Homo sapiens: one gene and its partners. The protein of the gene in region 1 interacts with the protein of each later gene in a pairwise test. Each region holds a gene or a part of one and is shown in the gene's direction. Other genes may lie near its edges.

The links.
Region 2: the proteins of MAGEA6 (region 1) and CCDC146 interact in binary tests that used the Homo sapiens proteins (3 or more experiments, as listed by UniProt).
Region 3: the proteins of MAGEA6 (region 1) and ARFIP1 interact in binary tests that used the Homo sapiens proteins (3 or more experiments, as listed by UniProt).
Region 4: the proteins of MAGEA6 (region 1) and FRMPD1 interact in binary tests that used the Homo sapiens proteins (3 or more experiments, as listed by UniProt).

The regions. Positions count from the first base shown.
Region 1 is NC_000023.11:152,766,344-152,775,128, reverse strand, and holds the start of MAGEA6 (melanoma-associated antigen 6), read left to right. Parts: upstream 1-5,439; 5' UTR 5,440-5,475; intron 5,476-7,203; exon of another isoform or gene 7,204-7,267; 5' UTR 7,268-7,333; intron 7,334-7,413; 5' UTR 7,414-7,478; coding exon 7,479-8,423; 3' UTR 8,424-8,785. UniProt on the Homo sapiens protein: Activator of ubiquitin ligase activity of RING-type zinc finger-containing E3 ubiquitin-protein ligases that acts as a repressor of autophagy. May enhance ubiquitin ligase activity of TRIM28 and stimulate p53/TP53 ubiquitination by TRIM28.
Region 2 is NC_000007.14:77,285,994-77,293,984, forward strand, and holds part of CCDC146 (coiled-coil domain-containing protein 146), read left to right. Parts: intron 1-804; coding exon 805-933; intron 934-1,446; coding exon 1,447-1,584; intron 1,585-6,958; coding exon 6,959-7,207; intron 7,208-7,991. UniProt on the Homo sapiens protein: Essential for sperm flagellum biogenesis and male fertility.
Region 3 is NC_000004.12:152,908,217-152,913,111, forward strand, and holds the end of ARFIP1 (arfaptin-1), read left to right. Parts: intron 1-1,847; coding exon 1,848-2,003; 3' UTR 2,004-4,141; downstream 4,142-4,895. UniProt on the Homo sapiens protein: Plays a role in controlling biogenesis of secretory granules at the trans-Golgi network. Mechanistically, binds ARF-GTP at the neck of a growing secretory granule precursor and forms a protective scaffold.
Region 4 is NC_000009.12:37,737,421-37,745,411, forward strand, and holds part of FRMPD1 (FERM and PDZ domain-containing protein 1), read left to right. Parts: intron 1-2,657; coding exon 2,658-3,464; exon of another isoform or gene 3,465-3,932; intron 3,933-6,968; coding exon 6,969-7,991. UniProt on the Homo sapiens protein: Stabilizes membrane-bound GPSM1, and thereby promotes its interaction with GNAI1.

The DNA.
Region 1 (8,785 bases):
TATCTCATGTGATTATGAGGTCTTGTATATCCCAAATCTGTGAGGCAGGCCAGCAGGCTAGAAACTCACACAACATTTTTATGTTAGTCTTGCGGTAGAATTCCTTTTCCAGGAAACCTTAGTCTTTTCTCTTAACACCTTCAACTAACTGGATGAGGCCCATCCACATTATGGAGATTAAACTGCTTCCCTTAAAGTCAACTGATGGTAAATGTCAATCACAACTACAAAATACCTTCACAACAACATCTAGACTACTGTTTGACCACACGGCTGAGCACTATAGCCTAGACAAGTTGACACATAATACTAACCATCGCACATATCTTACACCATACAAAAATGTAACTCAAAATGAACCACAGACTTAAATGTCAAAATTATGGGTTTTTTTTTTTTCTGTAGGAGAAAACAAAAAAAAATTGTGTTACCTGAGGTTATGTCTTAGTAAGCTCAGGCTGCCCTAACAAAATGCCATGGACTGAGTAGCTGAAACAAAACAAATTTATTTTTTTTCACAGTTTTGAAGTATGGAAGTCCCAGATCAAGGACTGGCAGGGTTGGTTTCTGGTGACGGCCTTATTCCTGGCTTGTAGATAGCCCTTTCTCAATATATCCGTTCTTGGCCTTTCCTCTGTGCATGTGCAGAGAGAGAGAGAGAGAGAGAGCTAGTGCAGGCACACAAGTAATTTCTTCTGTCTCTTCTAACTGCTTATAACCATACTAATCCTATGGGATCAAGGCCCCACCCTTATGACCTCTTTTAATATTAATTACTTCCTTAGAGGCCTCATCTCCAAATGCAGACACCCCGGGGCTGAGGGCTTCAAAGTATGAATTTGGTGGAGGACATAAGCATTAGCAAAGAATGCACACATAGATTAATAAAACAGAATAGAGCTCAGAAATAGACCTGCACACTTATAGTCAGGTGATTCACAACAAAGGCAATAATGGTGAAAGTACAGTTTTTCCAGCAAAAGGTGCCTGAACAATTAGACATCTACAGGCAAATTATAATAACCTAGAAACATCCTTACATATTCCAGAAAAATTAACTCGATATAAATCACAGACCTAATGCAAAATGCAAAAACTATACAACCCTCTATAAGAAAACATAAGAGAAAATTCACATAACTTTGAGTTCAGTGGTGAGTTTTTAAATTCAACACCAAAAGCATGATCAATGAAAGAAAAATTTACCAAGTAGATTTTATTAAAATAAACATCATGTGCTCTTCAAAGGACAATGTTAAGAGAATGAAAACAGAAGCCACAGACTAGCAGAAAACATCGGTGGTACACATATGTGATAAAGAACATATCTCTACAACATACACGAATTCTTAAAGTTCAACGACAGAAAAAACATGAAAATAGGCAAAGATCTGAACACACTCCTCACAAAAGAAGATATACACATGGCAAATAAGCATAAAAAAGTACTGAGAATCCGTTCTCATTAGATAACTGTGTACTAAAATGAGATACCACTACACACCTATTAGAATGTCCAAAATCCATAAAAAAGCAAAAAAAAAAAAAAAAAGAAAAGAAAACCAAGATCAATTGCCAGGGAAGATGTGGAGCAACAGAAACTCTCATTCATTGCTGGTGGAAATGCAACATGGTACAGCCACTTTGGAAGACAATTTGGCGTTTTCTTAAAAAACTGAACACAGCATAAGATTCAGCAGTCATAATCAATTTACCCAATTGACGTGAAAACTTACGTCTACATAAAAATTTGTATACGATTGTATACAAAAGATTATTTCATAATCACCAAAAATAGAAGCATCCAAAATGTATTTCATTTGGTGGATGGATATATATATACACACGCACTATGGTACAACCAGACAATGATACTACTACTCCTCAATGAAAAGGAATAAGTTCTGAGCCACACAAAGTTATACATGACTCTTCAGTTCATTATGCTAGGTGAAAGAAACCAGTCTAAAAAGGCTACATAGTATGCGAGTCTATTTATATGACATTCAGGAAAAGGCAAAATTATAAAGATGAAACACCTATCAGTGGCAGCCAAGGGGGTTATCTGACAAGCACAGGGGATTTATCAGGGCAGTGAAACTAGTATGGTAATACTGTAATGGTGGATGCATGCTTGCTTTCATCTGAATATTTGTGTTCCCACAAACTTCATCTGCTGAAATACCAAGGTGATGGTATTAGGTAGAAGGTGGGGTATTTGGAGAATGACTAGTTCATGAGAGCAGAGTCCTCATGAATGGGATCAGTGTTTTTATAAAATAGACTCCACAGAGATCCCTTGCCCCTTCTTCCATGTGAGGACATAGGGGAAAGGCAACTGTCTATGAACTAGGGAGCAGGTCTCCATCAGACATGAAATCTGCCAGCACCTTGATCTTGGACTTCCCAACCTCTAGAATGTGAGAAATAAAGTTGTGTTGTTTATAAGCCACCCAGTCTACACTATTTTTGTTATGGAAGCCCAAAGGGACTAAGACAACGGCACGAGGCATTTGTCAAAACCCATAGATCTTTACAGCACAAAGAGTGAAGCTTAATGTATGTAAAGTCTAAAAGTAACTTAAGAAGTTGGAGAATCATGGGACAGAATGTAGAATGTTACACACACACACAAACCTAGCTGTATTATACATGTATGAAACCACTACAGTGAAGCAAGTGGCGGGAAAGTTACCATATTTGGGTACTCCATCAAAGAAATATGTTTTTTATAAAGTATAAGTCGGCCAGATAAGCATGTAAAATAGTTGAATATTTGATAATCATTTATATAATTTTTCAGATATGAAAACTATTGGGATTCTGTTTAATAAAACGTCCTTATCTTTTAAAAATGCATATTGAGTTATTTCGAGATGAAATGGTCTAATGCCTTAGATTCGCTCCACGTTATTCCAGAAGCTGATGTGCAGGTAGGCAAGTGTCTAACTGGAACCAGATTTGCTGTGTATTTAAAGTTGTTCATGCTGGGTATCTAGTATCCTGGGTTCATTACATTAGTTCCTATTATTCTGTATGTGTGAAGGCTTTCCCTAGTAAAACTTTTTTTATAATAAATATGCCATTAAAAGTGAAATCCTAAATGAAACTGACCACTTTGTAGAAATAAAATAAACCAGTAACCAAACTGATCCAAAAAGAAAAAGAAAACTTTAATTAAACTATAAAAACTGAAACTGTACAATGTTCAAAGCTCAAGCCACCTTCAAACATTCCAGGTTAGGCAGTATTGGAGGCCAATTCTACCAAATGATCAGGGAAAACTAACCACCATCTTATCTCATCTCTTCTAGAACATACAAAATATTTACAATTGTTCAATTCATTCTTCCAGACTAGCCCTCCTGGATTCAAAAACCAGATGAGGACCACATCCCACCCTTGATGGGAAAAAAAGCACACATTAAGTAAGCTCCCTTACATAGCAGCAAATATCCTACGTAAATTACTAGCATATTAAATAAACAGGCTCTGCCCAAGGAAATAACATACGGTTTAACATTAGGGGAAAAAAAAAAACGGTTTCATTGTAATTCCTTACATACAAAATGGAGGAGAAAAAAATTTGATTGCGTCAACGGGTACAGAAAAAGCTTTTTAAAGAAATTTAATATGAGTTCATGGTAAAAAAAAAAAAAAAAGTATTTAACCTATATTCAAAGAGAAATTGCACTTCCTAAAATCAACAGCAAACATACTTAAATGCAAAACGTTCGAATAATTATCATTCACGTCAGGAACGAGAAGTAGATGTAGGCTATTATCTCTACGATTGAAATCAGGATTGAGACACAAAGAGCTATAAGTACCAAAATGAGTAAGTGGTATGAATACTGGAAGAATATGTAATGTTTAGTGATAATACCATTATCGATCTTGAAAATTCAAAGGAAAAGGTATGTGGAATATTCAAGTGCATCGGCCTTCAGAACGAGGTGTGCAACAGATTACTACAGCAAAATCAAAATCTTCACCTCACGAAAGCAATAACTAACTACAACAATTAATAGACAATATGCCATTTGCAATAGCAACAAAATTCATGAATTGCCTGAAAAGAAGTCTAATAAAAATGTATAAGGTCTTTATAGAGACAACTGTCGAAGTATACTGACATATTCAGGTAAAAAAAACCTTGAAATACATAGAGGAGTATAATATATTCATTCATGGGGAGCACAACACTGTAAAAATGTAAACTCAGCTTAAATTATTTACAATTTAGTGCCTTACCTGTAGCCGCCGCCATTACAACAAATTTGGGCTGCTGTGCTCTGCTTCCCAAATCAAACCTGGAAAATTACAGAATGGAAACAGTAAATAAAAAACCAGTATCAGCAACAAAACAGGGAAAGCCCAGGGTGAGACTCAAGGCTGTGTTGAGCTGGTACTTGTGTTTGACACTTGCAGTGTTGGTTGGAGGGGGTTAGCAGCAGGGATGTTGGGGAGGTTTGTAGCCGGCCTACACGGTAGATGACAGAATGGGTAGAATAAAAGTTTGAAATTTTCCACTTCACTTCTTTGCACAATCTGAGGCAGCCTCTGAAAACACGATGCCAAGAGCCCTAGGTAATAGCAGGACACCAGGAAAATTTGGTTGGTTAAGGCAGTATGACTCCAGAGTTCTGCTAATAACAACCTGAAACCACCATAGTGGGAGAGGAATTACATTTTTTAAAAAAAAAAATTCTTTCAACAGAACACAAAGACTGAAATAGGAGGTCACTACAACCGCGGGAGCTGCCGCCCCGCCCTGCAGGGAGCACCTGGCCTGGGACCCGCAGGCATTCTCTACAAGGGGTGCAGCTGTGCAAATGCTCACAGGTGACAGAAACAGAGCATCTCCTGCCCATCACTTCATCCAACAGCCAGAGGTGACGAAAACGACCCTCCTGAGTGAGGACTGAGGGTCCACACCGCCCCCCCACCCCACACACCATAGAGGGACCACAGAATCCAGCTCAGCCCCTCTTGTCAGCCCTGGTAAACGCAGGCAGTGATGTCACCCAGACCACACCCCTTCCCCCAATGCCACTTCAGGGGGACTCAGAGTCAGAGACTTGGTCTGAGGGGAGCAGAAGCAATCTGCAGAGGATGGCGGTCCAGGCTCAGCCAGGCATCAACTTCAGGACCCTGAGGGATGACCGAAGGCCCCGCCCACCCACCCCCAACTCCCCCGACCCCACCAGGATCTACAGCCTCAGGACCCCCGTCCCAATCCTTACCCCTTGCCCCATCACCATCTTCATGCTTACCTCCACCCCCATCCGATCCCCATCCAGGCAGAATCCAGTTCCACCCCTGCCCGGAACCCAGGGTAGTACCGTTGCCAGGATGTGACGCCACTGACTTGCGCATTGGAGGTCAGAAGACCGCGAGATTCTCGCCCTGAGCAACGAGCGACGGCCTGACGTCGGCGGAGGGAAGCCGGCCCAGGCTCGGTGAGGAGGCAAGGTAAGACGCTGAGGGAGGACTGAGGCGGGCCTCACCTCAGACAGAGGGCCTCAAATAATCCAGTGCTGCCTCTGCTGCCGGGCCTGGGCCACCCCGCAGGGGAAGACTTCCAGGCTGGGTCGCCACTACCTCACCCCGCCGACCCCCGCCGCTTTAGCCACGGGGAACTCTGGGGACAGAGCTTAATGTGGCCAGGGCAGGGCTGGTTAGAAGAGGTCAGGGCCCACGCTGTGGCAGGAATCAAGGTCAGGACCCCGAGAGGGAACTGAGGGCAGCCTAACCACCACCCTCACCACCATTCCCGTCCCCCAACACCAACCCCACCCCCATCCCCCATTCCCCATTCCCATCCCCACCCCCACCCCTATCCTGGCAGAATCCGGGCTTTGCCCCTGGTATCAAGTCACGGAAGCTCCGGGAATGGCGGCCAGGCACGTGAGTCCTGAGGTTCACATCTACGGCTAAGGGAGGGAAGGGGTTCGGTATCGCGAGTATGGCCGTTGGGAGGCAGCGAAAGGGCCCAGGCCCTCCTGGAAGACAGTGGAGTCCTGAGGGGACCCAGCATGCCAGGACAGGGGGCCCACTGTACCCCTGTCTCAAACCGAGGCACCTTTTCATTCGGCTACGGGAATCCTAGGGATGCAGACCCACTTCAGCAGGGGGTTGGGGCCCAGCCCTGCGAGGAGTCATGGGGAGGAAGAAGAGGGAGGACTGAGGGGACCTTGGAGTCCAGATCAGTGGCAACCTTGGGCTGGGGGATGCTGGGCACAGTGGCCAAATGTGCTCTGTGCTCATTGCGCCTTCAGGGTGACCAGAGAGTTGAGGGCTGTGGTCTGAAGAGTGGGACTTCAGGTCAGCAGAGGGAGGAATCCCAGGATCTGCAGGGCCCAAGGTGTACCCCCAAGGGGCCCCTATGTGGTGGACAGATGCAGTGGTCCTAGGATCTGCCAAGCATCCAGGTGAAGAGACTGAGGGAGGATTGAGGGTACCCCTGGGACAGAATGCGGACTGGGGGCCCCATAAAAATCTGCCCTGCTCCTGCTGTTACCTCAGAGAGCCTGGGCAGGGCTGTCAGCTGAGGTCCCTCCATTATCCTAGGATCACTGATGTCAGGGAAGGGGAAGCCTTGGTCTGAGGGGACTGCACTCAGGGCAGTAGAGGGAGGCTCTCAGACCCTACTAGGAGTGGAGGTGAGGACCAAGCAGTCTCCTCACCCAGGGTACATGGACTTCAATAAATTTGGACATCTCTCGTTGTCCTTTCCGGGAGGACCTGGGAATGTATGGCCAGATGTGGGTCCCCTCATGTTTTTCTGTACCATATCAGGTATGTGAGTTCTTGACATGAGAGATTCTCAGGCCAGCAGAAGGGAGGGATTAGGTCCTATAAGGAGAAAGGTGAGGGCCCTGAGTGAGCACAGAGGGGATCCTCCACCCCAGTAGAGTGGGGACCTCACAGAGTCTGGCCAACCCTCCTGACAGTTCTGGGAATCCGTGGCTGCGTTTGCTGTCTGCACATTGGGGGCCCGTGGATTCCTCTCCCAGGAATCAGGAGCTCCAGGAACAAGGCAGTGAGGACTTGGTCTGAGGCAGTGTCCTCAGGTCACAGAGTAGAGGGGGCTCAGATAGTGCCAACGGTGAAGGTTTGCCTTGGATTCAAACCAAGGGCCCCACCTGCCCCAGAACACATGGACTCCAGAGCGCCTGGCCTCACCCTCAATACTTTCAGTCCTGCAGCCTCAGCATGTGCTGGCCGGATGTACCCTGAGGTGCCCTCTCACTTCCTCCTTCAGGTTCTGAGGGGACAGGCTGACGTGGAGGAACAGAGGCCCCCGGAGGAGCACTGAAGGAGAAGATCTGTAAGTAAGCCTTTGTTAGAGCCTCCAAGGTTCCATTCAGTACTCAGCTGAGGTCTCTCACATGCTCCCTCTCTCCCCAGGCCAGTGGGTCTCCATTGCCCAGCTCCTGCCCACACTCCCGCCTGTTGCCCTGACCAGAGTCATCATGCCTCTTGAGCAGAGGAGTCAGCACTGCAAGCCTGAAGAAGGCCTTGAGGCCCGAGGAGAGGCCCTGGGCCTGGTGGGTGCGCAGGCTCCTGCTACTGAGGAGCAGGAGGCTGCCTCCTCCTCTTCTACTCTAGTTGAAGTCACCCTGGGGGAGGTGCCTGCTGCCGAGTCACCAGATCCTCCCCAGAGTCCTCAGGGAGCCTCCAGCCTCCCCACTACCATGAACTACCCTCTCTGGAGCCAATCCTATGAGGACTCCAGCAACCAAGAAGAGGAGGGGCCAAGCACCTTCCCTGACCTGGAGTCTGAGTTCCAAGCAGCACTCAGTAGGAAGGTGGCCAAGTTGGTTCATTTTCTGCTCCTCAAGTATCGAGCCAGGGAGCCGGTCACAAAGGCAGAAATGCTGGGGAGTGTCGTCGGAAATTGGCAGTACTTCTTTCCTGTGATCTTCAGCAAAGCTTCCGATTCCTTGCAGCTGGTCTTTGGCATCGAGCTGATGGAAGTGGACCCCATCGGCCACGTGTACATCTTTGCCACCTGCCTGGGCCTCTCCTACGATGGCCTGCTGGGTGACAATCAGATCATGCCCAAGACAGGCTTCCTGATAATCATCCTGGCCATAATCGCAAAAGAGGGCGACTGTGCCCCTGAGGAGAAAATCTGGGAGGAGCTGAGTGTGTTAGAGGTGTTTGAGGGGAGGGAAGACAGTATCTTCGGGGATCCCAAGAAGCTGCTCACCCAATATTTCGTGCAGGAAAACTACCTGGAGTACCGGCAGGTCCCCGGCAGTGATCCTGCATGCTATGAGTTCCTGTGGGGTCCAAGGGCCCTCATTGAAACCAGCTATGTGAAAGTCCTGCACCATATGGTAAAGATCAGTGGAGGACCTCGCATTTCCTACCCACTCCTGCATGAGTGGGCTTTGAGAGAGGGGGAAGAGTGAGTCTGAGCACGAGTTGCAGCCAGGGCCAGTGGGAGGGGGTTTGGGCCAGTGCACCTTCCGGGGCCCCATCCCTTAGTTTCCACTGCCTCCTGTGACGTGAGGCCCATTCTTCACTCTTTGAAGCGAGCAGTCAGCATTCTTAGTAGTGGGTTTCTGTTCTGTTGGATGACTTTGAGATTATTCTTTGTTTCCTGTTGGAGTTGTTCAAATGTTCCTTTTAACGGATGGTTGAATGAGCGTCAGCATCCAGGTTTATGAATGACAGTAGTCACACATAGTGCTGTTTATATAGTTTAGGAGTAAGAGTCTTGTTTTTTATTCAGATTGGGAAATCCATTCCATTTTGTGAATTGTGACATAAT
Region 2 (7,991 bases), on another chromosome or scaffold:
GGTCTCTGTAACAACCTGCAATGAAGAGGTGAAGGCTGTGTGTTAGTTCATTTGCATTGCTGTAAAGGAATACCTGAGGCTGGATAACATAAAGAAAAGAGGTTTATTTTAGCTCATGGTTCTGCAGGCTGTGTAGGAAGCATGTGCCAGCATCTGCATCTGGTGAGGGCCTCAGGAGGCTTCCAATCATGGTGGAAAGCAAAGGGGGCGCAGGCACATTGCATGGCGAGAGAGGAAGCAAGAGAAAGAAGCAGAGGAGCCAGGCTGTTTTTAAACAACCAGATGTCACTTGAATTCATAGATTGAGAACTCACTCATTATTGCAAGGACAGTACCAAGCCATTCATGAAGGCCCCATCCTGCCCCCATGACCCAAACACCTCTCACCCAGCCCCACCACCAACGTTGGGGATTATATTCATTCAACATGAGATTTGGAGGGGGACACATCGAAACCATATCAGGCTGTATACTTGGAGCCCTGCAACCACACAGCATCCCATGAACATGACCCAAAATGGGAAGCAATCAAGGGCCGCTTGTGAAACCAGCTTTTTCTATGACCCAGAAGGCACTGCCTCACCTCATATGATCGAATTATAGACATCATCGTCGCAGTACCATAAATGAGCAGAAACGTCACTTAACCAGGTCCCAGCTGATGGGGTGTTAAGAAAACAGAGTTCTCTTCTACCCTTGTCTGGGTTGGTCCTACTAAAAAACTCTCAAGACCCTAGGCAATGTGATTTTCAGATTAACTGAGCTAGAGCGTTCATTTTAAAGTTAATGTTTTTTTCTTAATAGTTTTCACAGTGTACAGACAGAATTAAAGACCTGGAGAAACAGTTCGTAAAGCCTGATGGTGAGAATAGAGCTCGCTTCCTTCCAGGGAAAGATCTGACCGAAAAAGAAATGATCCAAAAATTAGACAAGGTAAACATTATTGCTTAAAATTGCATCTGTTAGCTCCTCGTTGATGTAGTTTCACAGATACCTATGGTACTGTTTCATGTTATGCTGACAGACCTATCCTTCATTATTCTAGTCACTAATATAGTCCTTTTGTTGTAATCTAGTCATACATTCTAAGCTTGATTTAGACACTTGCCAAAAGAAGTTCCAATCCAGTGGTTTCGAGATTCCAAAGGCACATTTCTCTCATGACCCAAAGGAGTAATTTTGGCATCTTAAATGGATTAATTTGTCTTCCTGATGGGAGCACATCAGAAGAATGGTGATGTGGATGTTAGATAGAGCTGAGGGGGCCATACTCGAACTCCCAGAGGTATCTGCAGGGGCTGGGGCAGGGAAAGTCTTAACCCAGCTCTAAACACTTTCCAGAGGTATTTTGTGGGGGGTAGGGGGAGATACTGCTCTAATTAGGAAATAAGATTTTGTCTTAGATGACTTTTTTTTTATTCCTCTTGAACCAATTTTCAAACATAGCTGGAACTACAACTGGCCAAGAAGGAGGAGAAGCTGCTGGAGAAGGATTTCATCTATGAGCAGGTCTCCAGGCTCACAGACAGGCTCTGCAGCAAAACTCAGGGCTGCAAGCAGGACACACTGCTCTTAGCCAAGAAGGTAGGCCTGAGACCCTGCCTTTTCCCTTCTGCCCCTGCTCCTTTATTACCTTTTATTTTCCACAGACCGACAGATTTATTGAGAGAAGCACTGGAGAGATTAGGCTTTATGACTAGGGGAACTTAGAAAAACGAAAGGATGACTCAGAGAATTGTCCAAAATGTTTCAATCTTATTCCCTGAATTAATTCACTTCACGGTGGCAAAACCTAGGCTTTTAAATGACACTATACAAGTTTCACTTACCAAGGCAACTACCCAAATATGACAGTTATTATCTTTGTATTTCATGCACAAAGTTAAATCCTTTTTAGTTCCTTTTAAGTGGAGCGCCTCACTTATCCAGTGATCTTAGTAGGGACTGCTCCAATCCAGAACTCAGCCAGAACCCAGAAATTGAAAGGGACTGATAAAGAGAAATGCAGTCACACAACACCCAGACCAACTGCACCATGGAGGTGCCCACCAGGCACCACTAGTGAGGAAAGGCCAGGAATACAGAACCCCCTAATTTAATAAGCGTAAGAGACCAGGACAGCAGATCCAGAGCCTCAGGGTCAGGGTGGGACTGCTAGAAGCTGCACTGAAAGGAGCAGCCAGCAGAGCCCCTAGAAGTCCCCCTGGACTCCCAGCATGTTGCATGCTAGTTACCCTGGTCTCTGTAACAACCTGCAATGAAGAGGTGAAGGCTGTCTATTAGTTCGTTTGCATTGCTGTAAAGGAATACCTGAGGCTGGGTAACTGATAAAGAAAAGAGGTTTATTTTGGCTCATGGTTCTGCAGGCTGTGCAGGAAGCATGGTGCCTGCAGGTCTTGCCAGGCTTCCTGTGGCTCTGACTCCTGCTTCCAACAAAGGTTCATTTGGGGAATTGCCCCATCAGCCTGTACACCCATTTCTGGGTCATGTCCGTGCAGGCACGGGACTCACTCCTTCCTCAGTCTACCCCTACACAAGACCATTCATGCGAGGCCTTTCATGCATACCATAGAGCCATCAGAGGACTGGCCACTCACCTGGCCTCTGGGTTCCCTGGAGCATCCCGTCAATGCAGAGAGTTCAGCCAGTCAACAGTAATTACTGAACACCTGCTATGTGCTACTCTCATGCTAGGCATGAGTTCAGAAACAAAGAGGAAGGGACACATTGTTTACACCATAGGAAGCTCATAGGGTCTAGTAGGGGGAGACAGATGAAAACAGATAATGGTAATACCCACACCAGAGACTGTGGGCTCCTGAGGGCAGCAGCTGTTCCTCGTTCTTAATTTCTCCAATGCCTAGCATGTGCCAGACTCTAGAAAAACACTTCAAGGATGAGTAATCATCAGTTCTGTTCTAGAAGCACATGTGGAACACTAAACAAGAAATGATTGTAAATATTAGACTATCTTTGCCATTTTTATTTGACTATTATGCTTCTGCTCTGATGACTTCCATGACTAGACTGATCAGGCCAGTGGCAGGTGTGCAAATCACAACTTGGCCTCCCAAACTAAGGTACAAAGTTGTGAGTCACACGTCTGCCACTGGACTGATGCGAAGGCTCAGTTAAGCTCATGCACTTTGCCTGAATTAGCATGTCTGATATTTCTTTAAATAAACGTTGCCTTCCTTCCTTTTGCAAAATGAATTTCCCTTTCTTTGGGGGAAGTCATTTTTCACTGAGGCCTGACTTATCAAAGCTGATGGCAGAGTCGCCTGGAAGGCAACAGTAATGCTAAAGAAATGTACATAGCGGCCGCTTCCCATAGCCAGGAAAGCTCCAGCACAGCCGAGTCCTAGTCTAACAATTATTCTCCCCTTTCCTTTCCCTACCTTCCATGCTCTCCATTGGCTTCTTCCTCCTCCCCAGCTTTCACTGTCCCCACTCCATTTAAAATGATAATCTCATAGTAGGCAGAACTGGAAAGTAGAAAGACATTCAGATTCCAGATCTATGATTTATCAAAAGTAGAAAATGACCTTGAGAAAGATGGATAAATGATCTTAAAACTCAGTTTGCTCATCTGTGTAATGGGTGTGATAGCCAAAGTTGTTGCAAGTATTACATAGTCGAACACGTAAGTGACCTAGCCACATTCAAAAAGATTGCACATCTCCTCAAGTGTCTCACTTCTCCTAGATAGCTTATGGCGCCTCCTGCAAATTTCCCAACAGAAATGGGAGCAGAAAGTGGGAAATCTCAGTTAAGACTTGGAGCAACCCAGGATAATATGAAACTTTGTTTTCTAATTTATGGAAGAGAAGGGAAGTTGGCCAGTTACACAGATGGACACACACACTCGAGTGTGTAGTGGTTGCCATCCCATTACTGGGTATATACCCAAAGGATTATAAATCATGCTGCTATAAAGACACATGCACACGTATGTTTATTGCCACACTATTCACAATAGCAAAGACTTGGAACCAACCCAAATGTCCATCAATGATAGACTGGATTAAGCAAATGTGGTACATATACACCATGGAATACTATGCAGCCAAAAAAAGGATGAGTTCATGTCCTTTGTAGGGACATGGATGAAGCTGGAAACCATCATTCTCAGCAAACTATCACAAGGACAAAAAACCAAACACTGCATGTTCTCACTCATAGATGGGAACTGAACAATGAGAACACATGGACACATGAAGGGGAACACCGGGGCCTGTCATGGGGTGGGGGGAGGGATAGCATTAGGAGATATACCTAATGTAAATGATGAGTTAATGGGTGCAGCACACCAACATGGCACATGTATACATATGTAACAAATCTGCACGTTGTGCACATGTACCCTAGAACTTAAAGTATAATTTTAAAAAACAGATGAGAAAAAAGAAGAAAAAAAAAGTGTGCCGTGGTTGAGTGGAAAATGACTCCCCCCAAAGATAAGGAAATTCATTTAAAAAAGGAAAGGCAGCAACATTTAAAGAAACATAAGACATGCTAATTTACTCAAAGTGCATTAGCTTATCTAAGTCTTAGCATTTCTTATTTTATGAGTTAAAAGTTGTGAATTGCACCAATGCTGCTGGACTGTTCAGTCTGTTAGTGGAAGTTGTCAAAGCAGAAGCCTAGAAGTCAAATAAAAATGGCAAAACTTATGACTCACTGAAGTTTTTAGTGGTAGTCATTTTTATTTGATACATGCTGCTTAAAAATTAGTTCAGTATAGAAGAGTCATAAAAATGTATATTACCTACCATTAAGGAGGCAAAATTTGTGTATAATAATCAGTTATTACATTTTCAGAGGCAGGTAAATCACTAGCAGCAACATTTTTCTAAACAGAGGTACAGATGTGACCAGATATGCTCTGTTAGGAGAGGAAGGTATTCAGCATTAGTGTAGTATTTGGAAGCTCATTTGCATGTCCCAATTTATCCTGGTCCAAGAACAAAGAATGAAACAAACTAAGAGTTCATTCATTCCTTCATTCAGAAAATATTGAACTTTAATTTGGGGGGGTGCCTCTTATATTCCAAGCACTGTCCTGAGCACTGGGACTATGATGATGAATAAAACAAAAAGTCCTTGTCCTCATGAAGAGTACATTCTTATGGGATGACAAAAATAGTGAAATACATATATAATATCAGCAGTGAGACATGATGTGAACAAAAAATAAGGCAAGGTAAGAGGAACTAATGAGTGTTGCCAGGTAGAAGGTATCACCACTGAACTGCTCCACTATGGCTATCAGACTAAAAGAGTCTACCATTTATAAGACAGCTTACAGGAACCCCTAATTCCAGTTTTACTTCTTTCCTGACTCTTGAGATCTTTTTTTTCCAGTTAGTCTTATCTTTTAACTGTGTTAATGCTAAATAGCTGATATTAATAGGTTAAAAAAAAAAAAAGTCTGGTCGCAGTGGCTCATGCCTGTAATCCCAGCACTTTGGGAGGCCATGGCGGGTAGATTGCGTGAGCTCAGGAGTTCAAGACCTGCCTAGGCAACATGGTGAGACTCCATCTCTACAAAAAATACAAAAACAAATAGCCGGGTGTGATGGTGCACACCTGTGGTCCCAGCTACTTGGGAGGCTGAGGTGGGAGGATCACTTGAGCCTCAGGGGCAGAGGTTGCAGTGAGCTGAGATCACACCACTGTGCTCCAGCCTGAGTGACAGAGTGAGACCCTGTCTCAAAACAAACGAACAAAACAAAACACTCCAGGAACAGCTCTCATTCTAAATTATTGACTAAATATTCCCCAGCTCAGCTCATGCATGTTTCTGACCTAGTAATGATGCACACCAGGAATTATGATCAATAATGCCAACATGTCAATGTGATGGTTTTCATTTAAAAAGTCATTTCAGATGCAGAACTTCTGCTGATTATCTTATATAAGCAAAGAGTAACGTTAATTCTACCAGATTTTTTCCCCTGGATAAGTGACAAACTAATAACGTCAAATTAAACTAGAATTTAGGCATCAAGAACACTCTTGGCTGGGCACAGTGGATCATGCCTGTAATCCCAGCACTTTGGGAGGCCGAGGCAGGAAGACTGCTTGAGCCCAGGAGTTCAAAACTAGCCTTGTCAACACAGCAAGTCCCCATCGCTACAAAAATAATAAATTAGCCAACTATGGTGGTGCATGGCTATAGTCCTATCTACTTAGGAGGCTGAGGCAGGAGAATTGCTTGAGCCCCGGAGTTCCAGGCTGCAGTAAGCTATGATCACACTACTATATACCAGTGTGAGCAACAGAACAAGACCTTGTCTTTATTTTAATTTTTTTTTTTTTTTTTTTAAAGAACATCCCTGGCCAGGCGCGGTGGCTCACGCCTGTAATCCCAGCACTTAGGGAGGCTGAGGCAGGCGGATCACGAGGTCAGGAGATCAAGACCATCCTGGCTAACACGGTGAAACCCCAGCGCTAATAAAAATACAAAAAAAATTAGCCGGGTATGGTGTTGGGCACTTGTAGTCCCAGCTACTCGGGAGGCTGAGGCAGGAGAATGGCGTGAACCTGGGAGGCGGAGCTTGCAATGAGCTGAGATTGCGCTACTGCACTCCAGCCAGGGCGACAGAGCGAGACTCAGTCTCAAAAAAAAAAAAAAAAAAAGAACATCCCTTCACCTCTCCTTCTTACCTCTTAAAAATGGGCACTAAACTGTTCTCCTCAATGTTATTCACCTTGAAATCCAGTAACTAGATAAACAAATCCTTTTCTTGTTCTCTCCTTGTCCTTACTTACACAGCCAGGGTGTTCGGCTCAATATCTGCAGTCTCTTCCAGTTCTTAATTTCTGTGAATTCCAAGTTAGACCCTCCTTCCTTCAGACAAAAATGCACCCCGCCATTATAGACAGCCAGCAGCCTGCCATTTTAAGTCTTTGTGGACTGTATACATAGACTAAGCTTTGGGCTCTTTAATTCTAGATGAATGGCTATCAAAGAAGGATCAAAAATGCAACTGAGAAAATGATGGCTCTTGTTGCTGAGCTGTCCATGAAACAAGCCCTAACCATTGAACTCCAAAAGGAAGTCAGGGAGAAAGAAGACTTCATCTTCACTTGCAATTCCAGGATAGAAAAAGGTCTGCCACTCAATAAGGAAATTGAGAAAGAATGGTTGAAAGTCCTTCGAGATGAAGAAATGCACGCCTTGGCCATCGCTGAAAAGTCTCAGGTAGGCTTTGGCTCCTGTATTGCATTTCTAAAGGGTGCCAGCAGGGGTTGCATTCAGGCAACCCACAGTTATCCCACAGTATAAGAAAAATTTCCCCACTCTACCACACACAGTCCCAACAGTCGTTAGAAGTGTATTTAAGATATTCTATGATAAGTCAAAGTGCAGTAATCCAGAGTGCTACAATACTCACTGAAGAACACTTAGCAAGCACAGGGCCCACCCCATAGCCTTACATCCTGGGCTGCTGAGGCTGAACATCATGGCCTTCCACCAGCATAGCAATGACCAGGCTGGCACTGGCCTTGTCCATAAGTCTCCAATCTCTGTCTTGGCACCTCTGCTCAGACCACATCTGACTGTTCCATGTTCATCTCCTGTGGCCTCCACAGCATACAGTGAGGCCTCCACCCACATTTTAGGTGCCATGCCTTCTGCAGATGCTTGATGTACATCATAGGCCCCAGCGCCACCCCTTTCTTTTCCCACCTTAGGCCTCTGGCCTAAGACTAGGTCTATTGCTGACTCCCCCTGCAAGTTAGATAGCAGATCTTCTGTCTACCCCCATGACCTGTCAGTATTCTTAGACTGGAATTAGGCATCTCTTTCCAAGGAGTCTACATCCTCCAGATGTACAACTCACTCAGATTGCCAAGTGGGTATCACCGAAAGGGTCCCTATTTGCTCCTGAACTCAAGACAAAACTGCATTCAGAACACACTAGGAATACCTGAGCACAAGTGTAAATTACGTGATTTATAATTTCCACACCACCTGGGACTGT
Region 3 (4,895 bases), on another chromosome or scaffold:
ATATTCCAGATACACATTCTTTGCCAGTTACATATAAAGCAGATACCTTTTCCCAGTATGTAGCTTATCTTTTCACTATATTTTCATGAATGTAGCTTATCTTTTCACTATCTTTTGATGAATATTAGGCCGGGCACGGTGACTCACGCCTGTAATCCCAGTACTTTGGGAGGCCAAGGCGGGCAGATCACGAGACGGTCTTGGCCAACATGGTGAAACCCCGTCTCTACTAAAATACAAAAAATTATCCAGGCGTGGTGGTGCGTGCCTGTAATCCCAGCTACTTGGGAGGCAGAGGCAGGGGAATCGCTTGAACCCGGGAGGCAGAGGTTGCAGTGAGCTGAGATGGCGCCACTGCACTCCAGCCTGGCAACAGAAGCAAAACTCCATCTCAAAAAAAAAGAAAAGAAATTCTAAATTTTAATGCAGTTTAATTATCAATCTTTTTCTTTATAATTTATGGGTTTTATAAGCCTTACTTAAGAAATTCTTTCACATATAACATCATACAGTGATTTTTCTACCCTCTGTCAGGGCAGATTGCCCTTGAAGCGCTCCCTAGACCTGTCCCTGACAACCTGTTCTACAGAAGAGATCTGAGACTCAGTCACAATGGCAGAGGTGACCGAGACCAGCTCAGTTTTGGAAATCATTTTCAGAAATGGCTAGAGAGAAGTGTGTGTGTGTGTGTGTGTGTGTGTGTGTGTGTGTGTGTGTGTGTGTGTAATATAGTGAAACAAATTTTCTATCCTGTTTTTTCATTTAGCATCGTGTTTCAAATATTTTTACATCATTTATTATTAAAGTTCAATTTTAATGAATGTCATATTGGATGGGAATCAGAATTCTTATTTAACATTTTGCAGTTGTAAATAAGACCTCAGATGTCCGGGCTTGGTGGCTTACGCCTGTAATCCCAGCACTTTGGGAGGCTGAGGCAGGCAGATCACCTGAGGTCAGGAGTTTGAGACCAGCCTGGCCAACATGGTGAAACCCCATCTCTACCAAAAATACAAAAATTAGCTGGGCATGGTGGTGCACACTTGTAATCCCAGCTACTCGGGAGGCCAAGACATGAGAATCACTTGAACCCTGGAGGCAGAGGTTGCAGTGAGCCAAGATTGTGCCACTGCATAACAGCCTGGGTGACAGAGCAAGACTCTGTCTCAAAAAACAAAACAAAACAAAAGAAAAACAACCTCAGGAAACAGTTTATAAATCTTTTTGATGCATTGTTTATTTCTTTAAGAAAGACTTATAGAGGTAGTATGACTTGGTTAAAATATACTCTTGATATCAGCAGAAGTAATAAGCAGTTGAAAATAATTGAGAGTCATATGAGCGTTAAGTAAATTGATTTTCTGAGCAACACTTGCTACTTGCTTGATTCTTTACAAAGAAAGTCAATATTTAAAAGTATCCAGCCTACTTGGCTTACATAAAGCTTAGATTTAATGATGTCCATATTTACTATTCATACATTGTGTAGCAATTATATATAATTTTCCCTTTTTGATATCTCACATGATTTTGAATGTACTTAGTTTGAGGAGGATTTAATGATATTTTTAATTAATCCTCTCAATAATGTTTGAAAATGGTTAATAGGGTATATATTTGGGCATCTTAAAACTGACCTATTCTCTTTAGGGTAATTAAAAAGTCATCAAAGGTTCAGTGACCCTGCAAGGCAGTGTACACTTGGTATGTGTGAAATACTTGGTCATTATTAAGCCAGCTTTTCTTCAAGAGAGATACACTATTTAATTAAGGAATGTAATAAATCACTCTCTATTTTATTGTTATTGGTGTTAATGCTTGGTCTTGTAACTCTGCCCTGTCCACAGGTTAAAGTATTGCACAATCAGCTGGTCCTTTTCCACAATGCCATTGCCGCTTACTTTGCTGGGAATCAGAAGCAGCTTGAACAGACACTTAAACAGTTCCATATCAAATTGAAAACCCCTGGAGTGGATGCCCCATCTTGGCTTGAAGAACAGTAAAATCACAGCGGAAAATAAAAAGAAAGTCGCGTTGTTATATTTCTAAACCAACCTAACAAGAATTAAGCAGAGTTGGGGGAAGTGGGAGGGGTGACAAGCATTATAGTGATTCTTGCACAAACAGCTTTAATTTTTCCCTTTTTCATACTTTAACAATTGAACTGTTAAGGGTGGTTTTAATGTAAACATAGTTTCTATAATCTGAACACAATAATTTTCCTTTTTGAGAAATCCTTTTGTATTGTGAGGGTTGATGGCTATTTCTGTAGTTTGAAAACATCTAATAGAGATTTGCACTGACAAGATAAAAATTCAAGGTTTTTGGTCCTGGAAATGAGGGCCGATTGTAACTTTTCCAAAGGGAGGTTTACATGATTTGTATCAACATCAGATATTTTATATGTGAATATATTAAACATCTTTAAGAGATTCATTTTCATGTATTAAAGAAAAAAGAAACTATTTTGCAGAGTAAAGTTATATGGTGTTCCTGCAGCGTCCACACAGAGGCAGCAGCTCTAATGAATGATTAGCTTGTGGAGTTGTGGCAAATACCTTTTTAAAAATGAATCTGTACCACTGTAATTTTATTTAGACTTTTTTTTAAAGACACAGAAATCACACTGTCATTTCTGTGAGGCTTTTAAGCTTATGAATTTGCTTCACCCGAAGTCATTGGACAGTTACATTTGCAATTTCTTTTGGTTCATAACAAAACCTGCTTAAGAGAATTTTTTTTTTTGACAGGTGGACGTGGGAATGGAAATTCTTAATGGTTTCTGGAGTAGAAATCTGTACTTAGAAAACTAGTTTTTGGGTCAGTTCCATTTTGATAGAAGTGAATACATAGACAGCTTTTATTGACTTCCATATGTAACAATACCGTTTAAGCCTTAAATCACAGATATGTGCCTTCTCAGATACAGTAATTCTTGTTCAACCAATGTACAAAATCCATAAAGAAACCCCTGTTGGATAATGTTTGATGTGTCTATTCCTTCCATGGAATGGAGCACTATGTATGAATGTTGGGTTTCTTTGTACTTGTTAAGCCACATTTGAGGTTTATGGTAAAAATCATCTTTTGAGTTTGCTCTTTGGTTTTTCTTCATTCCTTTTGAGGATTGGGAAAACAGAAAGATTCTTTGATTTGGGTAATGAAGAGGTAATTTGGGACAGTGTGGTGGTACCAGGAAGAAAGAGGATTGGAAAGGCCAGTACTGTTTTAGTTGCTCGGCACTGTTGGTTTTGTTTTAATGTGGTTGCCCTGTCCACTACATGGTTCTATCAGTAGTGTAATCCATTTTCAATGTAAAGCTCTTTTAGTTTTTGTCATAGACATAAATTAATATTTTGAGAGGCATCCCTCACCTGTTCATTTCTTCTGTGTTGAAATGAAGTACTTAAAATTACCGTTATACATGAACTTTGTGGACTGTAAGATTTGTTATATATGTTCAAATGCCTTTTAGCTGGCTTTTTAATTAATATGCCTGTTTTGAGTGCTTAATACAATGTAATGTGATTGTAAATCATACCTATTTTAAATCATTCCTTCCTGTATATTTGTACTCAGAGAGCCTTATTTTATTCTTCCAGCAGAATTACTACTTGTGATAGTTCATTTACATTCCCCAGAATGTGCCTCTAGTGTGAATTTTGTATTCTTATTAAACGTGTTTGCTGCAGTAAATCGTTTCTCTGGACCTTCATAGTTTAAGAAGTAACTATTTGGAAATTCTGAAGACACATAATTTGCGTTTTCTGAACCTTAAAAAAAAAGGTACTTCTGTCACTTATAATTGTTTTAGCTCAGTAAGCTATTTTTTTTCAATGTGAATCTCTTTTGAGAGCTGAACATGTCCATTCTTAACCACATTTCAATAACAGTTACTGTAGCTAAGGAGCTAAATAGTTTCATGGATTAATTTTTTTCAGAATAAATTTAAAATATCCATGATTCTGATAGTGGGCACATGACCAAAAGAAAAAAGTAAATCAATATATTTAGCCAATGGTACATTTACTTTGTTAGGAATGTAATTTATGTTCATTATAGAAAAGAATTAGAAGAAAATTTCAAGTAATAGAAGATAAGTACCTTCCCAAGTGAATAAATACTGCATGGAACCACTCAACACCTCTGAAGTTGGATATTTTAGTTTTGGATTTTAATATACAAGCTCTATTTTGAATATCCTTTAATATACATTTACATCTTTGCACTTTTACTTACTTACTCCCTTAGGTTATAGTCCTAGAAGTGAAAATGGGCCCTCAAAAGTATATACATACTTCTAAAACTTTGTAATATATTGCCTGTTTGCTTTCAAGAAAGACTGTGCCAATTTACACCTCTAAGAGCATACACATGTACCTGTTTAGTATATTTTTTAAGCCAGTGCTGTATATATAAAATGAAATAATGAAAGAGAAAAACAGGAAGATAAAGGCTGAACAATCACCAACTGGAGAGTTTGGGGATGCTGGGTGTGAGAGCAGGGAATGGATGAAAATGGCTGGCTTTTCTGTCATTAAAATAGAAGTTGTTATTCTAGAAAAAATAATGCACTGAGGAACTGGTCTGTGAAATTAAACTTTTCATCCCAAAGCTTCCAAATCTTAGGGTCCAGGAACTATCTGGGTTTGCAAAAGCAATTTAGCTGAAATCTAGGCTTTAAGAAGCATCTTTTCCATATTCAAAACACACTGATAATGTTACTGAAGCTTATCCTATAGAGTGTGAAACTAGAATGTTCCTTAGAGATTATGTAACACACTTTTTTTTTAACAGATGAAACTATCAAGGCTTCAAAATATGTTAAACTGACTTAGCCAACCCCCATCTCCAAATGTAATGCTGGATGAGTATTTGCAACTATATACTTCAAT
Region 4 (7,991 bases), on another chromosome or scaffold:
AGAAGCTTTCTTTGTATCTGAAATTTTCCTGAAACCAAGGAATGCTGTGGAAGAGCTCTAGTTCCCTGCTGTATTTCCTAAGATTGTCTCTCAGATCCACTGCATTTTATCATTATTTCTCAGCCAGGCATTGTGGCTCACGCCTGTAATCCCAGCACTTTGTGAAGCTGAGGCAGGTGGATCACCTGAGGCCAGGAGTTTGAGACCAGCCTGGCCAACATGGTGAAACCTCATCTCTACTAAAAATACAAAATTAGCCGAGCATGGTGGCACATGCTTGTAATCCCAGCTACTTGGGAGGCTGAGGCAAGAGAATCGCTTGAACCCAGGAAGTGGAGGTTGCAGTGAGCCGAGATCGTGCCATTGCACTCCAGCCTGGGCAACAAGAGCGAAACTCCATCTTAAAAAAAAAAAAAAAAAAAAAAAGATTATCATTATTTCTCATCAAAAAGAGATGTCACTTATTTGTTCAGGAAGTAGATGACCTGGCTTCTCTTCCTTACCTATGCACTCTTTTGCAATCTCTTGAAGTATAAAAGAACTTCTCTGCAAGGCAGGTAAGACAGTTTCCTAGGCCAGCTCCCAGTTTCTGCCAGGCTTTTGCCTCAGCACCATTGATGCAGCATGAACCTAGGGCTGTGCTGATAAATGCTTAACAACTCCCTGCAGAGGGACAAAAACAGTTTGAAGGAATTGCCCAATTCCATGGTGTCAACATTCTCACGATGGGTAATTTCAGGCTACCACGATATGATGATACCATGATGAATGTGGAGATGGGAAGAGGTGATCAATAGCACACCACTGTAGAGTGTTTCCTCTATATGGATAAAGTAGAAATCAGCTCAAGAGAATAGGTACTAATACAATAAGTAAAACAGTTAGAAAGTGATGAGTTTGGAGTATCTGTTACCTTTGTTTTTATTTTTATTTTTTTTAGAGGCAGTCTCTCTCTGTCACCCAGGCTGGAGTGCAGTGGTGCAATCTTGGCTCACTGCAGCCTCCACCTCCTGGGTTCAAGTGATTCTCCTGCCTCAGCCTCCCAAGTAGCTGAGATTACAGACACCTGCCACCACGCCCGGCTAATTTTTGTACATTAGTAGAGATGGGGTTTCGCCATGTTGGTCAGACTGGTCTCGAGCCCCTGACCTCAAATGATCTGCCCACCTTAGCCTCCCAAAGTGCTGAGATTACAGGCATGAGCCACGGCGCCCAGCCTGTTACCTTTGTTGTTACACAATGTATTTATGAACGAGGGGTGACTCCTCAGAGTCTGCTCAGGGAGACAACGCAGAGTGGCAACAGGGCTGTTGTGGAGGGGTTGTGGGGGGGACTGCTGCTGCCTGTCAGAGAAAGTTCTCTAGAGGAAGAGGTATTGGAAATAGATCTTGAAGAACATGCTGGAGTTAACCAGGCACGGAAAAGGAAGACAGATCATTCAAGGCCGAGGGGGCCTGGAGGAATGACCCGAGGAAAAGGCCATGACCTGAAAGGAGCTCTCCCTATGGGTGGCTGGAACGTGGCAGGGAAGGCTGCCATGGGGGACTGGGTGCCTGAGGAGGGGCTGGACCATATTGCAAGAGGGGAAAAGGGAGATGGTGAAAAGAGATAGGAGCCCCACCACGAGAAGGGCAGCTAGACTACAGAGGAGACCTCAGCGCCATTCTGTGAGGGAGACACTAGACTGAAGGGGAGGTGTCAAGACCATCCTGTCGTGGGTACTAGACTGCAGAGGAGGGTTCAGGGCCATCCTGGGAGAGGGGGAAGAGCCTGCAGAGGAGGCCTTAGGGCCATCCTTTGAGGCAAGGGAGGACTAGACTGTGCATGAGGCGCCATGGCCATCCTGTGAGAAGGGCAACAAGGCCATACTGTGAGAGTCTGTAACTGTTGTGGGGGAGGCCAGGCTCTTCCCCGTAAGCAGGGCAGCCATCAGAGGGTTTAAGCAGGGTGTGATGAGGTCAGAGAGAAGTTTGAGAAAGATCACTCTGGAGGCTTACAGGAATAAAGAGATTGCAACCTGGCTCAGTGCTCCCCAGCCTCCTACCATTAATCCTTCCTGAGAACCTGCCGCTGGATGAGTTTTCACTGTCCTACAAAGCCCATAGCACCCATGGATCCAGAAGGCCAGGCTTTAGAATGGTGCCAGCCTAGCAGCCTCGTACTCGTCATAAAATTGCTAAAAATACAGATTCTCAGGCCCCACTTCTAGCGATCTGACTCAGTACATCAGGGGTAGGGCCAAGGATCTGTTGTATTTTTAAAATATGATTCCCCATCTGACTTTGACGCCCAGGCAGGATAGAACTGAGGTCTGGGGAGGGGCTTAGCAAACCTGGGCAGTGCTGCCCACACAAAGAGGAATCAAAGTAAATACCACATTTCCATGAACAGACAGTTCTCCTTGGAGGTGGGGATGGAGTTAATCCAGCCTCCTTTAGCTCAGAGAGATGTGGGACAGGCGGTCTGATAGCATGGGGAGAACATGGAAGCTGGAGTCCCTCGGATCCCGTGTTCGTCAGTATAGGACGGTCTTAGGCCAGCCACCCTCTGGCCCTCAGTTTTCTCGTCTGGCAGGGTTGGGTGGGGGTCAGGGGGCTAGAAGGACACATAGGTAGGAGAATTCTGTTGTGTAACTGTTGCTGTACCCTGTGTTGCAGGCTATGAATCCAGGGCCTGCAGTGACTCAGAGGAGTCCTCTGAGGTGGACTGCGTACTCGAACCTCTCTCTGACAGGCGCCTGGTGAAACTGGCACCCTGCAGATCACTCATAAAGGAGGAGCAGCCTCCTGGGAACAGCCCCACACCTGAGGTGGCTAGGAGGGGCCCCAGCACCTGCGGGGCCAGCAGCACGACAGACAGTGCCGAGTCCGAGGCGTCCGACTCAGCCAACACTGAGAGCCGCGGCTACAGGACCAGTGGCTCGAGTGAGTCCATGGACGCTCTGGAAGAGGATGACTTAGACACCTGCTCCTCCAGCAGGTCCACCTTCTTCCACTTTGGCTCGCCAGGCCTCGCAGAGAGCATTGACTCTGACAGCCAGGAGGAGAGAAGCGGGATTGAAACCAGTGGCTTCCTCTGTCTCCTGGACCTGGCCCAGAGAGCCAACCCCCAGTGCCAGAAGACAGAGTTTTCCGAGAGTGCTGCTTTGGAGACATTTGGCTGGGCACCAGAACTGAGCACAGTCAGGCTGGACCCCAGGCTGTATGAAGGCAGCCACGCTGACTACTACAGCCTGTGTTCCAGTGTCTCCCCGGCCAGCTACCTGAGTGACAGTTCCGAGAGTACAGCTTCCCGGCAAGGGGGAGCCCCGCCAGCCTGGGGTCAGCAGGGCTGGACTGAGGCCCAGCCCAGTTCCATGCTGGAACCCCTGGCCCTGCACCCACCACTGGCCTTTGAGGATGGCAGCTCAGATGAGGAATACTATGACGCGGCTGATAAGCTCACTCCCCCAGGCCCCCCGTCAGGTGAGCCGTCCCTTGCAGGTCTGCAGACACGGCAGGCAGCTCCTGAGTGCCTCCCGGGGATCAAGGCCTGGGGCCAAGCTTGAGAGGAAGGCACATGAGTGAAACAGGGTCCCTGTACACTTCTGAGGAGGTAGATACAGATTCCATGGACCAAATTTTAGGCATCGTGGCAGGCCTGCAAGGGAGGTTCAGACAACTGTGGCAAGCAGATGGGAGGGATTCATCCAACAGTGGGAATCAGGGAAGGCTTCCCAGAAGAGGGGGCAAATGGGCTGGGCCCTGTGGGAGGGACAGAATTTACAAAAAAGGAAAGGGCTTGACAGGAGTGCCCGGCAGAGCGAAGTGGCTATGTCATCACTGATCCTGAGGCTGCATTAAAGGAGGCCTTGAAGCAAGAAGAACCAGACAGACAGGCCGTCTGTGGCCCTGCAAGGCCTTCTGGGGTCCAAGGGACCCTGACATCAGAAGGTAGGGGATCTGGTGGCTGTGTTTCTATCAGGTTCCTCATACATTCCTCCACCGAGAGTGTGGAGGGTCTTTCCAAGCAGAACTGAGATCCTGGCAGGACACACACACACACACACACACACACACACACACACACACACTGCATTCTGAAGGAAACATATTGGAAAAGAGCACATGGATGTTGAAGGTGACCTGCCAGGAGCTGGGAGAGCTGCAGCCCTTGTTCCTGTCTCGGCACTTTCCTGCTGCTCTCTGATCCTCTATTCCCAGACCTCCTGTGCTCTCCCACTGTTCTGGAGAGAAAGGCCAGCTCCTCTGGGAGCCCCATCAGGCCCTTTGAGGCCCTCTGTGACATGGCCTCTGCCTGTCTCTCTCCCTCCTCCTGCATTCCTGCCATACAGACCTCCTTGCCACTTTCTACAAGTGCCTGTTTTTTCCCCCTCCTCCAGCCTTTGCACATGCTGCTCTTTCTGACCGAAACACTCCTCCCCAGATCGTGGCTGATGGTGCCCATCCGTCTATCAGATTCCGGTTGGAATTCACTTCCTCAGAGAACATTTCCCAGGCTTCCCAGGCCAGGGCAAGTCTCCCCATCTCTGTCACATGTTCTTGCATTACCTGGGGCTCTCCCTGTCTGGCACCTCGCACAGCCTGTAAATTACATATTTACTTGTATGATTCTGTGTTGATGTTTCTCTCCATCACTAGACCGAGAACTCCTTTGAGCGTTAGAACTGTGTGTTTCTCACTGTGTCCCCAGCACACAGCGTCTAGCAATTGTTGTTAAATGAATGAATGAAGTCTCCACCATCTACACTGAGTTCAATTGACTGTACCTCTAAGGAAAGGAGAAACCATGGCCAGACTCCTTACTGCTCCCCAAAGTACCCAGACAACCACTTTCCATGCCCCAGCCTTGCCCTGCAGGGCCAGCCATTGTGCCGGGGGGCAGGATGGAAGTGTGGCAGAAACCATCAGTCAGGGCCCTTTTATGGGAGTCTAGTCAGGAACATATGGGGTTCATACCAGACACTGTTTTGTTTTTGTTTTTGTTTTTTATAGGGAGCCAGTGTAGTGCTGAGAAAAGAGCCAGAACTAGGATTCCTCAGCCTGGGTTCTGATTTGGCCCCTGACTGACTATTGGAGCCTCTTTGTCTTTGGGACTTAGAAACTCCTTGGTCGGTGGCTGTCAGTAGCCTAGGGCAGTCAAATGTGACTGGGCATCAGAATCACCTGAGGGACCTTGTTTAAAAACTATAGATTTGGCCGGGCGCAGTGGTTCACACTTGTAATCCCAGCACTTTGGGAGGCAGAAGCAGGCAGATCACCTGAGGTTGGGAGTTTGAGACTAGCCTGGCCAACATGGCAAAACCCCATCTTTACTAAAAGTACAAAAATTAGCCAGGCATGGTGGCGTGCACCTGTAATCCCAGCTACCCAGGAGGCTGAGGTAGGAGAATCACTGGAACCTGGGAGGCAGAGGCTGCAGTGAGCCGAGATTGCACCACTGAACTCTAGCCTGGCCAACAGAGCAAGATTCTGTCTCAAAAAACAAAAAACAAAAAAACCTAAACCTTATAGATCCCTAGGCCCTAGCCTCAGAGATTCTGACTCCTCAGAGATTGTGGGGAGCAGCCTAGGACTTGATAAGGTTTCTAATAGCATACAGCCAGGTTAGAAATGACTGGTCTGACTACCCAAGCTCTCTGATTCTCAAGTGCTAGGCTCTGATCCTAATTCCTTCTGGCTGATTCCCAAGGGTTCTTTACAATAGTGCCTCTCCTCCCAGAAAGATCCATCCTGGGATGCACAAAACTCGATGCCTGTGACAGAGTTGTGGCCCCTTTACATTCAGACATGAAATGGCAATAACGAGCAGCTTCCTTTTAGTGAATACCTAATGAGGCAGAGGCCTTGTGCTGGGTGCTTTATAAAAATGCACTAATTCCTTTAACCTGCACGGCAGCACTGAATGGCACCATTGGCACTAAAAGACTTGGGTTAACATCAGCACAAAGAAAAAGTGTTAGGAAGTAAGATTGTTTATAGAATTGCTGGCAAGCCTGAAGACCTGGGTTCAGAAATAGACAGCAACCAGGCTAAGAGTCTAGTCACAGGATTCCCTACCTGTATTATCAAGCTATTGTGGTTGGAAAGAATGGCTCTGCTTTTTTTTTTTTTTTTTTTTTTTTTTTTTTTTTTTTTTTAATGTCTTTGGGTTTGGAATTCTGGAGAATTTGTAGCTGATTGGCTGGCGTGGACAGAGCATCTTCGTGAACAGTTCCAGCAGACTCTAACCATTGGGGAGATGTCATTCCCTAAACAGAAGTTGAGATGCTGTGACCAAAAGATAATTAAATGGATCTTAGGCATCCAAAAATTTAATAATGTCTATCACAGCTGGGTGCAGTGGCTCAATCCTATAATCCAAGCACCTTGGGAGGCTGAGGTGGGAGGATTGCTTGAACTCAGGAGTTCAAGGCTGCTGTGAGCCGTCACACCACTGCACTATAGCCTGGGGGACAGAGTGAGACCCTGTCTCAAAAAAAAAGAAAAAAAAAAGTCGGCCAGGCGCGGTGGCTCATGCCTGTAATCCCAGGCCTAGGTAGGCGGATCATTTGAGGTCAGGAGTTCGAGACCACCCTGACCAATATGGTGAAACCCCATCTCTACTAAAAATACAAAAATTAGCTGGGCATGGTGGCAGATGCCTGTAATCTCAGCTACTCCGGGGGGATGAGGCAGGAGAATTGCTTGAACCTGGGAGGCAGAGGTTGCAGTGAGCCGAGATCACGCCACTGCACTCCAGCCTGGGTGACAGAAAGAGACTCCGTCTCAAAAAAATAAAAAAAAATCTGTCACAATTATTATCCCCATCTTTCAGATGAGGAAGTTGAGGAGATCAGGATTGAACTTGCTCAAGGTTACACAGCCTAGCCAGAATTTAAACCCAGGAAAGCCCAAGGCCTGAGCCCAAGCTCTATTAACCTCTTTTTTTTGTGCTTTTTAATGTATTTTTTCTTTCCTGACTCCCAGGGCCCAGAGATGTTTCTACTGCAGAACCCAGTGCCACAAGCTTGCAGAATAAGGCCAGCACTTCTAGCCCTGAGAACAGCCTGCCTTGTGGGCCAGATGGAAGACAGCCAAGCAGGAGGGGAGGGGTGAAGAAATATGCCAAGACCCTGAGGAAAAGAAGGTCTTTCCTACAGACCGACTACACCTCTCAGGTCTCATTTCCCCTGGTGCCATCAGCCTCCCTGGAGAGTGTAGACGACGTGTGCTACTATGACAGGGAGCCCTACCTGGCCCTTGGTGCACCCTCCCCAACTGTGTCCTCTCTGCAGGACATGCAGGGTGAGCCTGGCCTTCTGGAGACCAAGGCCTTGGGGCTGCTGGCTCCTCTGAGGGAGACCAAGAGCACAAACCCAGCCTCCAGGGTCATGGAGATGGAGCCCGAGACCATGGAAACCAAATCAGTCATCGACTCTCGAGTGTCTTCTATTTCTGCCATTCGCTTCCGGATTGACCCCAACAATAAAGAGAATTCTGGTGTTGTCCCTGCTGCCAGCTCCTCAGCAAGCACTCCTCACTGTTCTAACCCAGGTTCATCTGGCCCAGATACTGCTCAGGCAAGGCCTTCCCAAATCTTACCTCTATCTCAAGACCTGGATGGGATTGCCCCCAAAGAACCAACCATAGAGCATGGAGACAGCTCCTTCTCCCTCTCCAGTGGTGACCCTAACCCAGACAGAGCCTGCCTGGCCAGCAACCCAGGACTAAATAATGTCTCTCAAGGAGACACACTAGAGCTCCAGTTGGAGCCCCATGTCCAGTTGGAAATGGGATTGGAATCTTTTTGTACAAATCATATACAAGAAACTGCCCCCAAATACACAGAGCCTTTGTTGTCTCCTAGAGATGAGCCTAGAAGTGATGAATGTGGAATAAATCCAGGAGAGAAGATAGCTTCTATCCCTACAAAGGAAGAGCCACAAGGACAACTATCTCTGGAAAGAGACAGAGAAGTTACAAACAAAAATGGCACCAACGTATTTCAGG